Homo sapiens: one gene and its partner. The protein of the gene in region 2 purifies or fractionates together with the protein of the main gene of each other region. This does not show direct contact. Each region holds a gene or a part of one and is shown on either strand. Other genes may lie near its edges. The genes, in order: AKAP5 and GPER1.

What was found.
Region 1: the proteins of GPER1 (region 2) and AKAP5 purify together in Homo sapiens (co-immunoprecipitation; one study listed by IntAct). This does not show direct contact.

Annotation. Positions count from the first base shown.
Region 1 is NC_000014.9:64,468,182-64,471,750, forward strand, and holds part of AKAP5 (A-kinase anchor protein 5), read left to right. Parts: 5' UTR 1-213; coding exon 214-1,497; 3' UTR 1,498-3,569. UniProt on the Homo sapiens protein: Multivalent scaffold protein that anchors the cAMP-dependent protein kinase/PKA to cytoskeletal and/or organelle-associated proteins, targeting the signal carried by cAMP to specific intracellular effectors.
Region 2 is NC_000007.14:1,086,763-1,091,139, reverse strand, and holds the start of GPER1 (G-protein coupled estrogen receptor 1), read right to left. Parts: upstream 3,028-4,377; 5' UTR 2,819-3,027; intron 1-2,818. UniProt on the Homo sapiens protein: G-protein coupled estrogen receptor that binds to 17-beta-estradiol (E2) with high affinity, leading to rapid and transient activation of numerous intracellular signaling pathways.

The DNA of each region.
Region 1 (3,569 bases), on a different chromosome or scaffold from region 2:
GAAATTAAAGAGAGAAATTACAAGCCATAGAGAAACTGGGCATTTCTATACTAGAGAAACCACCTAAAACAACTGTATGGAGTAAGATGAAAGGTATGAATATGCCTGGAAGAAATTTTACCTAGTGTGACATTTTTGCTCATCTTTTTGTCACAAAAGGCTGCTAAGGAAGAGAGAATACAGTTTTCTAGAGAATAAGAGTGCAGTGTAAAAATGGAAACCACAATTTCAGAAATTCATGTAGAAAACAAGGATGAGAAGAGATCAGCAGAAGGTAGTCCTGGGGCTGAAAGGCAGAAGGAAAAGGCATCCATGCTTTGCTTCAAGAGAAGAAAGAAAGCAGCCAAAGCACTGAAGCCCAAAGCTGGCTCTGAAGCTGCTGATGTGGCAAGGAAGTGTCCACAAGAAGCAGGAGCTTCTGATCAGCCAGAGCCCACACGGGGGGCCTGGGCCTCACTCAAACGTCTTGTAACACGCAGGAAAAGGTCAGAGTCTTCAAAGCAGCAAAAGCCATTGGAGGGTGAAATGCAACCTGCAATAAATGCTGAGGATGCTGATCTTTCTAAGAAAAAGGCAAAATCTAGACTTAAGATTCCCTGCATAAAATTCCCAAGAGGGCCAAAAAGGAGTAATCATTCCAAAATTATAGAAGACTCAGACTGCAGCATCAAAGTCCAGGAAGAAGCTGAAATTTTGGATATACAAACACAGACCCCATTGAATGATCAGGCAACAAAGGCTAAGTCAACCCAGGATCTAAGTGAAGGCATCTCACGGAAAGATGGTGATGAGGTCTGTGAATCAAATGTGAGCAATAGCACAACTTCTGGAGAGAAAGTGATTTCAGTAGAACTTGGATTAGATAATGGGCATTCTGCTATTCAAACGGGAACTCTAATCCTTGAAGAAATTGAAACGATCAAGGAAAAACAAGATGTTCAACCCCAGCAAGCAAGCCCACTTGAAACTTCAGAAACAGACCATCAGCAGCCAGTACTTTCTGATGTTCCTCCTTTACCTGCAATTCCAGATCAACAAATTGTGGAAGAAGCCAGTAACAGTACCCTAGAAAGTGCACCAAATGGAAAAGACTATGAAAGTACAGAGATTGTAGCTGAAGAAACTAAGCCAAAAGATACTGAATTGAGCCAAGAATCAGATTTTAAAGAAAATGGGATCACTGAAGAGAAATCCAAATCAGAAGAAAGCAAAAGAATGGAGCCAATTGCTATTATTATTACAGACACTGAAATCAGTGAATTTGATGTTACAAAATCTAAAAATGTCCCTAAGCAATTCTTAATTTCAGCTGAAAATGAGCAAGTAGGGGTTTTTGCTAATGATAATGGTTTTGAGGATAGAACTTCAGAACAATATGAAACACTCTTAATTGAAACAGCCTCTTCTCTAGTCAAGAATGCTATTCAGTTGTCAATAGAACAGCTGGTTAATGAAATGGCCTCTGATGATAATAAAATAAACAATCTTCTACAGTGACTTACTCTCCAGAGTCACGGCAGAAAAAACAAGCTTAATGAAGAATTCTTTTATACATTTGTGGCATTTCTTACTCAGTAACAAATGAGAGATTTATCATCTCTAGAACTTAAAAGGTACAATTCCAGCGCAGAAGTGCTAAAGATTAAGTCAAGTTTATAAAACTCTACCACTGAAATGCAGTCACTTCTGGATTGGAGGAAGTCAGCACAGATTGCAGTGTAAAATGACATAACATACAGGGAGTTGCTAAAATGGCATATGGAGATTGGAGTGCTTTGGGGGAGGAAGGTGTATTTATTGAGCACTTATGGTATGCCATAAGCTTTTTAATGACCTCTGATATAACAAAGTCTGGTTTCCTTTTGATAATTCAGCTCTGTGTATAGGCTAACATCACATTAAGTTTTTAAAAACTTATTTTTTACAGTGCACATATATGTTTAAAATGGTGAATAAGGTGAGCTACTTTTGTGAATGTGATTTGTAATTGTTACATTCCTAAGCAGCAGGCTTAACTCAAAAAATACATTGCATTTTCCCAATTTCAGCAGATAGTGTGCAGAATATGCATATTGATATTAAACGTGAGTGGTTTCCTAGTCTTAAGTCTCTTATAAGCGCTATTTGGCCAGGGGCAGTGGCTCACGCCTATAATCCCAGCACTTTGGGAGGCCAAGGCGGGTGGATCAGCTAAGGTCAGGAGTTCGAGACCAGCCTGGCCAATGTGGTGAAACCCCATCTCTACTGAAAATACAAAAATTAGCTGGGCGTGGTGGTGCACGCCTGTAATCCCAGCTACTTGGGAGGCTGAGGCAGGAGAATTGCTTGAACCCGAGAGGTGGAGGTTGCAGGGAGCCAAGATTGCACCACTGCACTCCAGTCTGGGCAACAGAGCGAGACTCCTTCTCAAAAAAAAAAAAAAAAAAAAAGAGAACCATTCACAAATCCTTCAATCAGGCAAATTGTTACTAAGTGCAAAAGTGTAGAAACAGGGAGAGTGGGTTTTTCCCCCGCTTTTCTTTCTGCCTCAACAGATCTGTATATATCCATTTCTGCATGGATTTATCTGTGAAAAGTTAAAAAATGAAACAGCAAAAACAAAACAAGGGGAATATTATTCTTCATCCAGGAGAAGGGAAAATTCCCAAGTAAATTATCACAGATAATATAGGATTCATCTTGCAGAATTACTTCTTTAAGAGCCATATTCATCAACTTCTCTCCAAAGAGGGGAGAGTAGATTCAAAGCCAGCCTGGTAGTAATGGTCCTGGAAAATCCTAATAATCTAGTGCAAATATTTATTCTCGGCCAAAAATGAGCCATGAATGTGGGTGAATAGAAAAGTGAAAAGTTATTGCTAAAGCACATTATAATTTAAATGTCAGTATTCCTTCATGTCTGTGTGTTGAGACCAGTAAAAAGCATTTTACATGAATATTGAAAGTTAACTTTTTCATCACTATTTTCTTTTCTTTTTTTTTTTTTTTTGAGATGGAGTCTCACTCTGTCGCCCAGGCTGGAGTGCAGTGGCGCGATCTTGGCTCACTGCAAGCTCCACCTCCTGGGTTCACACCATTCTTCTGCCTCAGCCTCCCAAGTAGCTGGGACTACAGGCGCCCACTACAACGCTCGGCTAATTTTTTGTATTTTTAGTAGAGATGGGGTTTCACCGTGTTAGCCAGGATGGTCTTGATCTCCTGACCTCATGATCCTCCCGCCTCGGCCTCCTAAAGTGCTGGGATTACAGGCATGAGCCACCGCACCCGGCCTTCATCACTATTTTCAATCCAGATATACTTTACAAAAATGAGAAGGGCTTATTTGCATTTTTATTTACATATTGAAAGGGAAGCATCTGATCTCATCAATGATTGCCATATTTTTTGAAAAAGTAATCCTATTTCAATCTTTCCTTGTGTGAAATGGCCATAATACCAGAGTGCACTTCCCTACCTCACAGGTTAGGATTCAAAGTGTGTATTCCCCCATTGTGTAAATTGAGTGATTGTGTTACTACTTGAAACAGATGAAGTAATAAAGATGAAGTATGAGATGTAAGGTATTTGTT
Region 2 (4,377 bases):
AGGGGTGTTTTTCCCTTTATAGCCACAGAGCAGGCCCAGGAAGCAATGAAGGTATGGGCACGGCCGCCCCAGGACAACGGCATTTGTGAGGAGAGGGGAAAATGCATTTCAGCAGCTGATGGAGAAGTAAGATAGGAAGGGAAAGCCAGTGTTTCTGAGAGAGAGAGAGTGGGTCCAGAAAGCTGGACATCAGAGCAGAATCTTCTCTTACGATAAAACAGAAGTTCAGCGGTTTCCTCATGCTAGTTCTGTGTTCTAGGTACCAAAAATAAACTTATTTTCGTAATATAGAGTGAAAGGGGTCATTGTTTTGGGAAATAATATGTACGTTTTTATTTCATGTTTTAACAAATTATTGTAAAACCTAATATGTTTTTGCAATGCTGTTTGTAACCTAGGAAGAAACTCCAGGGAGAGAGTCCCTCCCGAGCTTATCCTCTGCAGAGAGGGAGAAGTGGGCTGTCCGCCCACGGCGGTGCCCGGGCTCTGCCGCCAGTGGGGAGGGTCCCGTCACCCACCCCGTGTCACCCTGGCTCTGCCGCCAGTGGAGAGGTCCCGTCACCCGCCCCGTGTCACCCCGGCTCTGCCGCCAGTGGGTAGGGTCCCATCACCTGCCCTGTGTCACCCCGGCTCTGCCGCCAGTGGGGAGGGTCCCATCACCCACCCCGTGTCACCCTGGCCCTGCTGCGAGTGGGGAGGTCCTGTCACCTGCCCCGTGTCACCCCGGCTCTGCCGCCAGTGGGGAGGGTCCCGTCACCTGCCCCGTGTCACTGTGCTCCTGGAAGTTCTCTATGCAGCGGGCCACGGGGGTCTCAGCCTGCAGACACTGGCAGTCTCTGGGGATGCGGGGGCAGTCACAGGGGGGTGCTGGTGGGGCCAGGGCTGCCGCTCAGCTCCCTACAGTGCCTAGGACAGGTGCCCAAGCCCAGCAGAGAATTACCTGGCCCAGATGGTGCTGGTGCCCTGGAGTAAACTAACACTTCAAAATGGGTTTGAGTTGTTTTTCCTTTGGGAATTTTCATTTTACCTTTTGAAATCATTAGGAGTTATTGTTTTGAATGTTTTTTTTTTTTGGTCACCCAGGTTGGAGTGCAGTGGCACAATCTCGGCTCACTGCAACTGCCGCCTCCCGGGTTAGAGTGGTTCTCCTGCCTCAGCCTCCTGAGTATCTGGGATTATAGGTGTGCACCACCACGCCTGGCTAATGTTTTATATTTTTAGTAGAGATGGGGTTTTACCATGTTGCCCAGGCTTGTATCGAACTTCTGACCTGTAGTGATCTGCCCGCCTTGGCCTCCCACGGTGCTGGGATTACAGGTGTGATCCACCGCGCCGGGCCAGGGGTTATTGTTTTGAAGTGCTGCAAAACCAGACTAGAGATTTGTTGACCTATTGCTTGAAAATACTTACTTAAAAAAAAAAAAAAAAAAAAGGCTGGCCTATAATCCCAGCACTTCAGGAAGATGAGGTGGGAGGATTGCTCAAGTTCAGGAGTTCGAGACCAGCCTGGGTAACATGGCGAAACCCTGTCTCTACTAAAAAAAGACAAAAAAAGTAGCTGGGCATAGTGGTGTGCGCCTGTAGTCCCAGCTACTCGGGAGGCTGAGGCAGGAGGATCGCCTGAGCCTGGCAGGTAGAGGTTGCAGTGAGCCAAGATCACACCACTGCACTCGAGCCTCAGCCGAGATCACACCACTGCACTCGAGCCTCAGCCGAGATCACACCACTGCACTCGAGCCTGAGCTACTGCAGTGAGGCCCCATCTCAAAAACAGGCGGGTGGGGAAGACAAGATGAATCACTGCCTCTGTGTCAGTTATTCTAAAAGTACTGAATAACCTTCACTTAGCTGGGGCTGGTGAATTTGATTTTGGTTATTTTGCACTCTTGATTCATCTTTAGTAGATAATACCATTGAACAGCATAAATGCCTCTGCTCTCAGGCTCTGTCGGGAAGGTTGAAAGACTCCGCATTTCGCCTCTGTATTTAATTTCTTAAAAACGGCACAGAGGACTTGTTTTGCTCTTTAAATGTAGAAATTTTGGAACGTATTAGACCGTGGCGTGGCAGGAAGTTTAAAGGTGGGCAGAACCCTCAACTTAACGTTTATTTTCTTTCCTAATTTTGTTAAATGAACTCCAAGGGAAAAATAGTTTAAAAACGAGTCATTCATTTCTTTCCCATGTAAATTGAGTCTTTTGATCGTTGCCAGACACCGAGAAGATACGGGACCTGGTGTCTGATGTGTCCTAGTGTCTGATGTGGTCCTGGGTGAGAGGAACCTAGTGTGCCATTCACCACTGGCCCCACGTCCTCACTGGAGGTGGCCATGGAGTTATAAACAGTGCAATACCTCATTTCAGATTTCCTCTGCTTGTCATAGAGAAATAAAGCCACACTTTAGTCAGCTGTATTAAGTCTGCATCTGTCAAAAGGCGTGTGGCCCTCCCAGGGCTTCAGGGTTGGTGAGAGTGACTGGGGCACCGCAGGGCAGGGCAGAGTGGGCACCCTCATTTTCTTGAAGTGAGACACGTTCTTGCTGGGACAGAACGTGACGGAATACTGGGTCCTGCTTTCAGCACGAGTTAGAAAGGCCGTCCAGGCAAAGCCCCTGCTGCGGTCACGCTGAGACCACCGGAGCTCCGGGGGAGAGGGGTCTGTGCCTTGAGTTTGGGAAGCTGGGTGCTGCTCTCACCAGGGGGTGAGGTGTCTGGTCTGTGTTCAGCTGTTCCCATAACAGGACAGCGGCCTGGGTGGCACCACCCACCCGCTCCCCTAGTCAGTGGTATGGCACCGCCAGGCCGAGGCTGAGTCCTACCTGGGTTGCAGCCCCTTCTGTGCTCCTGGAAGCCTCCTTGGTCAGGCCCATCAGGCTGGAGGTGCACTTGGAACCCGCTGCAGGAGGTGTACCTCTGCTGGACCTGCCGAATGCCTGAGCAGGGCTAGAGAGAGGAAGAGACCCGCCCTGGGAGCCCGCGAGGGAAGGTTCCCGGCTGGCTGGCGGGTGCGTCCTCCCTCTGAGCCAGTGAGTCTGCCCCTTGGCACAGGGCTTTATAGGCCCCCTCCGCCCCGCTCCTCTCTGGCTCCTCTCTGGCCAGGCTCTGGGCGGCCTCCTCAGAAGGCTAGTGTTAACCATTTTTTTGCTGGCCCTTTTTCTCCCACACTTTGGCAATCAGCTCAGTTCTACTAGACTTGTTTTTGTGGAAGTTTCTGGTTTAACTGCTTTTCTTCACCCACAGATACAAACCTTTCTTTAAGTTTGAAGGCATCATACTAGGTGTTGTGTATCTTTTAGGCAATAACCTGTCCTCCTGGGTTGAAGCAAGCAATATTCTTGTTTTTGCAACTGACCTGCGTTAAACACTAAATTTCATAATTAACTTAGTAGCATGTGCATGATCCATAAAGAATTTAACAGGAATTTCACAGACATTTGCAGAGAGAAGTGTAATCCCAAGAAATAGGCATTTCTGACAAGTAACTTAGGAATCTGAGTACTGGTTAAGCATCTGGAAATCTGAAATCCAGAGTGCCCCACAGTCCGACACTGTTGGAGCGTCGTGACACAAGTGGAAAATTCCACACCTGACCTCGTGTGGCGGGCTGCAGTCCAGGCAGTTCAAAGTTTGTTTTATGCATGAAATTGTTAAAAGTGTTTTTATAAAGTTGCCTTCAGGCAGTGTGTATAAGGTGTGTATGAAACACAAATGAATTTCGTATTTAGCTTTCTCATTCTGTACCTGCAGATATTCCAAAATCTGCAAAAATCTGAACTCCGAAACTCTTCCGGTCCCAAGCATTCAGACCAGGGACCCTCAGCCGGTAGTTTTCTCTGAGTGTTAGCGGTGCCTCAGGTCCCTCCTCCCGCGCTCGCTGCAGAAGCGTCGGAACTTACCTGCCGTCCAGATGTTGGTGGCCTCTTCCCCACCAGGGCCGCCTCTCCTGCTCATGGTTGCGGATTTCACAGTCTCGTGCAGGCGGAGAATAAACCTCCCTCCCCGGACTCTCGGGGCCGCTGAACTGCCTCATGCGGGGCGGCCACTTCCGAGTGCGCCCCCTACTGGCCATTTGAATTTTCACTCGCCGCTTCGGGAACCGATGGCCGCCCCATGAGGGCAGAGCGAGGCCCCCCAAGCCCGCGTGGGCTGTCCAGGCCGAAGGGGTCCTCAGGCACCGCCAGCCCCGGCTCTCCAGGCGGAGGGGTGGGTCTTCCTCAGAAGGGAACTTCAGCGAATCTCACTCCTACTTCTAGGTGTCGTTTTCCCTCTGTAATGTTTTGAAGTGGTGAGATTGAATGCTGAGTGATCCTTTGTCCGCTGAGTATGAGTAATGCGGCTGCTGCAGCCTGAGGCGTGGTTCAGAGACCTGCGTGGGCTC